Homo sapiens: one gene and its partner. The protein of the gene in region 2 purifies or fractionates together with the protein of the main gene of each other region. This does not show direct contact. Each region holds a gene or a part of one and is shown on either strand. Other genes may lie near its edges.

Region 1 (3,500 bases), on a different chromosome or scaffold from region 2:
AATTAATAAAATGGTTTGGATTTTTTTTCTCAAGTTCTAAAGTTTTTTAAATATTTAAGTCCTCTTTTCTTGCAAAATTAGTATAATACTGCAAACATCATTGACTTTTTATTTTATCTTATTTTTTTTTTGAAACAGAGTCTTGCTTTGCGCCCAGGCTGGAGTGTAGTGGTACGATCTCGGCTCAGTGCAATCTCTGCCTCCTGGGTTCAAGCAATTCTCCTGCCTCAGCCTCCCAAGTAGCTGGGATTATAGGTGCACACCATCACACCCGGCTAATTTTTGTATTTTTAGTAGAGTTGGAGTTTCACCATGTTGGCCAGGCTGGTCTCGAACTCCTGAACTCAAGTGATCTGCCCACCTCAGCCTCCTAAAGTACTGGGATTGCCAGCGTGAGCCACTGTGCCCAGCCCATAATTGATTTTTTTTTTGATGAATCAGTATCTCATGGTCATTCTGAGAACCAGCTGACAATGTTAAGCATCAAAAGATGTAGAAAGTAAGCTAATGTGATCTGACCACAGAACTTTCACATGGAAAATGTTTCCTCTTCTCAAATTCTTATGTATTCTTGTTCTTTCCAAAAATTAGCATGCAAAAGTTTCTACTGAAATCCATTAGCTTAAGATTTTGCTGAATTTCAACAAGCAAAGCTTATAAGTCAATCAAAACTTTACAAGTTAAAATGTCACTATAGGTTTTTGGCATAAGTAAAATTAAGCCTTTTGCTATAAACTAGTGTAAAAAGGCAGTATTTATCACATCGAAATGGTATTACAGTACAGAAAAGAGAAGTTGATTTAATAAAAACATAGAATTATGAAATGTAACTTACTTCCTCAGGGAATCAATAATATCCATAGAAAAGTGCTCATCCCAGCCACAGTCCAATAAAAATCTAAACTCATCAACTTGGAGAAGATAGCAAAGGGCAGATTCTTCTTGGACCCCAGAAAGGGTAGTTAATTTGATAATAGACGTCATTTTTTTTGGTCCAGAAACAGCAAGCTAGAAGAGTCTTTCAAATGAAATGAAAACATAATTAAACATAAAAGCACAGTCTGGCATATATAATAAACAAATTGATTAAAATTATTTCAAATCTTTAAGTGCATAGAAATTCCATTAACACGAAAAGCAGTTTAAAGGCCCATTTCCATCATTGCCAAGTTTACTTTTTTTTTTTAAGTGAAAGCAAGTTTATTAAGTCACTGCCAAGTTTAAAAGCACAAAGATAATCTTAGACACAATGAGCCCTTTAGTGGCTCCCTAGTGGGGTAGTGAATGTTGCAATCAAATAGACCCATATATGAATCTACTTCTATGTGATTTGAAGCAAGTTAATTAAACTTTCCTCACCTATGTATCTCAGTCTATAAAACATTAGTATTAGTATACATGTAAAAACAATGTTGAAGTATTTCAAATAATGTATAAATTACCTATAACAGATACTACTGCATCCAAGTTCCTCAATAAATAAATGTTTAGGAATTAATGAACTCATCCTTCAAGGTGAATCTCTTCCTCTTTTATCTTGCTTTGTGATGGCACTGATTTCACTGTATTACAATGATTAGTTTACATGTCTTTCTCTCCCATTAATTAGACCAGTGGTCCTTAAATAGATCCCCTTGAGAATCTGATAAAAACCTATGGACCCTCCCCCTCCCCCACCAACTCTCAACACACTCAAACAAAAAACAAGAGTACATATACACGTAGAAATTCACAAACTTTTCAGGGAGTTTAACATTAAGAACCCTTGCATTGGAATGTGAGCAACTGAAAAACATAGGTGGCATATGTTTGCAACTCCCTAAATAGAACCTGATGCACGCTTCAACATATATCTGATGAAATGCAAATTGGGATGCCTACTACATATATTTCAGGAAAATATAACATGAACACATCTACAGGCCAGGCACGGTGGCTCACGCCTGTGATCCCAGCACTTTGGGAAGCCGAGGCAGGAAGACTGCTAGAGTTCAGGAGTTTGAGACCAGCCTAGGCAATGTAGTGAGACCCTGTCTCTACAAAAAAAAAATATAAGAAAACTGGCTGGTGGCATGTACCTGTAGTCCTAGCTACTCAGAAGGCCAAGATGAGAGAATTGCTTGAGCCCAGGAGTCCGAGGTTACTGTGAGCTATGAGTGCGCCACTAGACTGGGCACAGAGTGAGACCCTAGAGTGTACCCTAGACTGGGCAACAAAGTGAGACTTTGTATCTAAAAAATAAATAAAATAAAATATATACATTTTTTAAAAATGGGATTTAGAACCTGGAACTGTGTGCTATTAAGCAGAAGTTATGAAAATATTCATTAGCAAAGTTCAACTCCACAGCAACATTTCAGATTTTAGCTCCCTAAAATAAATGAGCTTTTCCTGGCTAACTATGCAAGTAGGAGAGAAGGCCACCGAGTTACCTAATAATTTCTTACCACTACTCAAGGCCATCAACAAACTAAGGTAAACTGAATATCCACCTTTCATAAGAGGCTGACAGGGGCTGCTAAACCCACCACATCTCCCAGCCTTGTTTATCTGAGTGACAGCCAAAATCACAAGACTGCTAGGTTATCAATTATCAACGATGTGTACGTCTCCCAGTAAGACCTAATCCCCTACCTCTTCTCCCTCTCAAATCCTTTCAGGATGCTCTCTGGAACTGTGATCATACTCACCTGTAACTGCAACTGCTTCTCTGAAAATTCTCTTCACCTGCTTGTCTTCCCAGGTACCTGGCTGTTCCCTCATCATACTCTTCCTCTTACGGCCTTCTCAAGGTTTTTTGTTGTTGTTGTTTTAACTTCTTGTACCCCCTGTACTTGAAAAGCAGGAGGTATGTGTTCCTTGCTCCTCACTGCAGCTTCTAAACCATGTCTTCTCTTTCCTCTTTCAAATAGTCTAGTCCCATTAAAGCTCTTGCCACCCAGCAGTTCACTATTAGTCTTCCACATTTCCTCTTCACTATGGCATCTATTCACCTGGCCTCATTCACTGAGGACTTTTACATGACCCGTTGTTCCTCTCAGTAACTTCAATACTGACCTGTTGGTTCCTTGACTTCCTCAACTCCAATAATCATTTCACTTCAGCCACCCACCACTACGATTACACCCTAGACCTTATCACTACCAGTAACTGTTCTACTTTCAAAATTTCACTTCAAGCATCTCATTCTCTAACACCTTACTTACTCTAGTATTCCCATTGCAAAAATCCTCTGGGGTCAGTGGTATCTCTCTAATTCGCTGACTACTTTTTCCCTATCCATGACCCCCTCCTGTTTTTACTCAGGTCCTCACCTTCAATTCATGATCTGTTAACATTATTTGCAAACACTCAAATGTCTTGCTCCTCTAGGTACTTCTCTCTACTAGGCTGGCAAAACCCCAGTCCTGATTAACTCCAATCATGCAGGGCCGGCGGGGGGATGGGATATGGAGGAGAATTACAGCTGTGCTATTTGCTTTTTTTTGAGACGGAGTCTC
Region 2 (3,858 bases):
ACTACCTTTTGAAGTAATTCTCTTTTGCTTGCAAGAGTTAACTCTTTAGGAATCTGAAGATTGGCATCTACACTTAATCGATGCTGTTGCTGCTTTGGGGCTCGAGGTGATAAAATTCCTTTAGTGCTTGACCAGCTCTCCCTATGCCTCAGATGAGGAGGTTTACTATGTTCATCAACCTGTTGTAAGCTGAAACCATAAAAGCAGTATGTTACATTGAAATGTTTTTTTAAAAAATACTCAGGACCATATTTAAAGATTCTTTTCAAAGGATATGGTTAAAATGGGCATATGTAACCACAAAAAGTAATTAAATAAATGATTAAGAGCACAAAATATGAAATCAGCAAAAACAGATATGAATTCTGATTCTTGCATGTCCTGGACTGCAGCCTTAGGTAGATTAGTTAACCTTTCTAAACTTCAGTTTCCTTATCTGTAAAATAGAAATAATAATAGTATTTAACCCACAGAGATGTAAGAATTAGATGGAAAAAAAGTACTAATAGCACCTAATAAACATTTTCCAATTTTTAAATTAACACTATCTTTTGAAACATATACACTACTACACTTGACTTAAAATGTTAACATCATACCTTTTATTTTCTTCCCAACCAGATTTCCATCTTTTGGCAGACTTGGAACTTTGCCAGTTTTCTACATTCTCCTTTGGTTCAGTGCCTGACTTTGTAGAATGCTGATTTGTAGTTTCTTGTGGTCGCTCCTCTTCAGTCTTTTTCATTCGCCTTGGATCCCGAATATCCTGTTTAGTACTTCTCTTAGCATTTCTGTCTTCCCTAGAAGGTGGTGTAAACTCTTCCATATGTGACTGCTTAGCTCCAGATTGGCGAATCTTTCCAGCTTTAGGTGTCGATGTTGGAGACATACTTCTTTGCCTTCGTTTGGGTGACCGCCTATCTCTTCTCTTTGGGGAATGTATAATTGGTGACCTAGACTTGGGTGATCGAGATCTTGATCGCTTTCTAGTACTCGATCTCCCTGGTTTTGTCCCCTGTTTTTCTGACTCTTCTGTTATTGTATCCTGTTTTTGTACAATGCCATTTATGATTTTATTTCTACTTCCAGCCAGTCTGTGTTCGGATGACTTCATGTGCTCATCTTTATCCTTTTTTTCTGCAGTTTTTCTCTTCTCTTTCACATCATCATCTTTGCCATCGGTCTTATCCTGAAGATGTTTTTTTAATCTTGGATCTCTCTTGTTCATATCAGACAACCTCATACTTTCCGATTCTTGATTTTTCAAGTCTTTTGTGTGAGATAATTTGTTTTTCAAAGGTGAGGGTGATTTCGATTTCGATTTCGATTTAGAATCTAATTGGTCAAGTTCTTTCTTGGTTATTTTTTCACCTGATTTACTTTTTTCTTGCTTGGATGAATTTAGTTTTTCAGAGGGTATAGTTTTACTTGTCTTAGTATCAGACTGGTTTAATGTGTTCATTAGAAATTCTTTCCTGTGACTCTGATCTTTTCCATGAGAATGTTGGCTTATCCTGTTCAGACGAGGATCCCGGTTAGTTCCTTTTAAATCCTGAATTTGTAAGGATGGTCCTGGACGGCTTTTCTCAGATTGCACAGGAACCTGATGAGGAGCTTTAACTGCCATAGGGGGAATCTGTGAAACATGTAATTTGGATGGTGCAGATCCAGGACCTAAATTGGATGTTTCCTGCTGAACACTAAGAGAAACTGCCTAAAACACAAAATAAATGTTCATGTTAACACTGCAGAACATGCAGATTGTCAAGAAATTGCAAACAACTGAAGAAGATAATGCTTTATTCAATAAATATATTTACTCAACACTACATTTAAATTGTACACTTATAATGTATAAATTGAGATTACAATGAAAAGAAAAAGTCCATGATTTAAGTTGCCCATTATTTCTTACTAGTATTTTTTGAGACTTTATAATATAATCTCTAAATAGAATGAAAAAAAATTGTTTCTCTTCCTTATTGTTCAGGATTCTGAGCCATACTGCTCCTAAGAAATTGCTAAATCACTACACTCCGGCTGCACAAGAATCAGAGTCATTTCAGCTAAATTCTAAGTCCTAAAATTTAGTTTCTCCCAAAGTGGTGCTATTAATGAACTTATAAAATTCTGCCTTCCTGCACCTCACTGTCGAATAAGCTCAGATGCTAAGCAAAATAACTTAGTATAAAGTCATTTATGTGTAGAAAGATATAATCTTCCTGGCCTCCTTAATTTTGTCATTTCTGTTCATGGAGCATAAGCTCATAAAACATTAAAGACTATGCAAAAATATTTGCCACAACATGCCTACCATCTTGGGACTGAAATATTAAGTCCACATAATGTAATGATTAAACAAAATTAAGATGCTATTTTATAAGATAGCAATCTAACAGAAAACTGTTTGGAGGAAATAGTGTAGTTTTGTAGTTTTTGGAGGGTTTTCTTGAGACAGGGTCTTGATCTGTCACTCAAGCTAGAGTGCAGTGAAGCAATCATAGCACACTGCAGCCGCAAGTGATCCTTCCAACTCAGCCTCTCGAGTAGCTGGGATCACAAGGATGCACTACCCCACCTGGCTAATTTTTTTTTTTTTGGTAGGGCCTCACTATGTTGCCCAGGCTGGCCTCAAACTCCTAAACTCAAGCGATCCTCCCACCTCAGACTTCCCAAGTGTTGGGATTACAGGCATGATCCACTGCGCCTGGCCTATGCAGTTTTTAATCAAGTGAATTTTACAATAAAGATATAAAAGTATAGTCTAATAAATATACTCATTTGTAAAATAAAAGTGAAAAAAGAGTACACTATTAATAAAAGTAACATGTTAATAAAATTCAAACATAAACATTACTTCCCTATTGTTAGACAGGTTTAAAATATTTAAAATGACAATCTCCCTTACTTACCAACTGTGCCTTAGCTTGCTCTAGCTCAAGCTCCAGCTTTTTCTGCTGAAGTTCTAACAACTGTTTTTGCTTTGCCAGTAACTGCTGCCTTATTAGTTGTTCTTGTGTAAGATTCTTTTGTATATCAGGAACAATTGGAGGAGTGGAGATGCTAGGGGAACTGACCACTGTACCAGGTGTTGAAGGCTCCTCGGGCTATAAGAAAAGACAATTTGTTTAAGAAAAACGTATCAGCTAAAACGGAAGCTAGGGAGTAAAAATTATCAGCTTAACTCTTAATATGATCCAAATTCCTATCACACAGAAAACTTATCAGAAATTTAAAACCCAAAATAAATGTTACATAATACCTAAACAAGGTGAATATATTTCTAAATAAAAATTCCAAACATATACACACTATTTTTTTTTTTTTCAAATTGAACCAATTCACTACCGAGTATTCTATTTTGACTTTCTGGCAGTAAGTTCTGCAGAAGAATTCAAAATGTGATACTTAAAAGTATGTTACTTACTATTCATATTAAAACTTACCGATTTATTTAAAAATTTAGGATTCACATGGATGCTAGACGTATTCACATTGGGGGGTAGAGGTTTAATAGGCCAAGCAGGATCTAATGAATTGACTCTGACATCCAGGGCATAAAGTTTCTTCAAAGGGAATATTTCATCCCATGTAGAACGTAACTTAAATAAACTTTTCCTAGTATTTTCATCCACCTAGAACAACAGAACAATTCTATGGCTTGTTAAGTTACTATAGAATATTTTATATATTAAATATAAGTTATATAAATCTGCTCTACTTCACATACAGAACTGTACTACCCATTGGTAAGTATATACAACAGTAATAATTTATTAAAGGTGCATTTCTCCTTCAAAAACAGAGTAATTAAAACCATTTTCACCTAGCCTTCATGCAAGCAACCAACCAGGTGAG

What was found. The genes of interacting proteins can lie anywhere in the genome.
Region 1: the proteins of PCF11 (region 2) and CPSF2 fractionate together in Homo sapiens (co-fractionation; one large-scale study listed by BioGRID). This does not show direct contact.

What each region holds. Positions count from the first base shown.
Region 1 is NC_000014.9:92,128,469-92,131,968, reverse strand, and holds part of CPSF2 (cleavage and polyadenylation specificity factor subunit 2), read right to left. Parts: intron 1,019-3,500; 5' UTR 985-1,018; coding exon 836-984; intron 1-835. UniProt on the Homo sapiens protein: Component of the cleavage and polyadenylation specificity factor (CPSF) complex that play a key role in pre-mRNA 3'-end formation, recognizing the AAUAAA signal sequence and interacting with poly(A) polymerase and other factors to bring about cleavage and poly(A) addition.
Region 2 is NC_000011.10:83,163,456-83,167,313, reverse strand, and holds part of PCF11 (pre-mRNA cleavage complex 2 protein Pcf11), read right to left. Parts: intron 3,636-3,858; coding exon 3,447-3,635; intron 3,108-3,446; coding exon 2,913-3,107; intron 1,715-2,912; coding exon 600-1,714; intron 190-599; coding exon 6-189; intron 1-5. UniProt on the Homo sapiens protein: Component of pre-mRNA cleavage complex II, which promotes transcription termination by RNA polymerase II.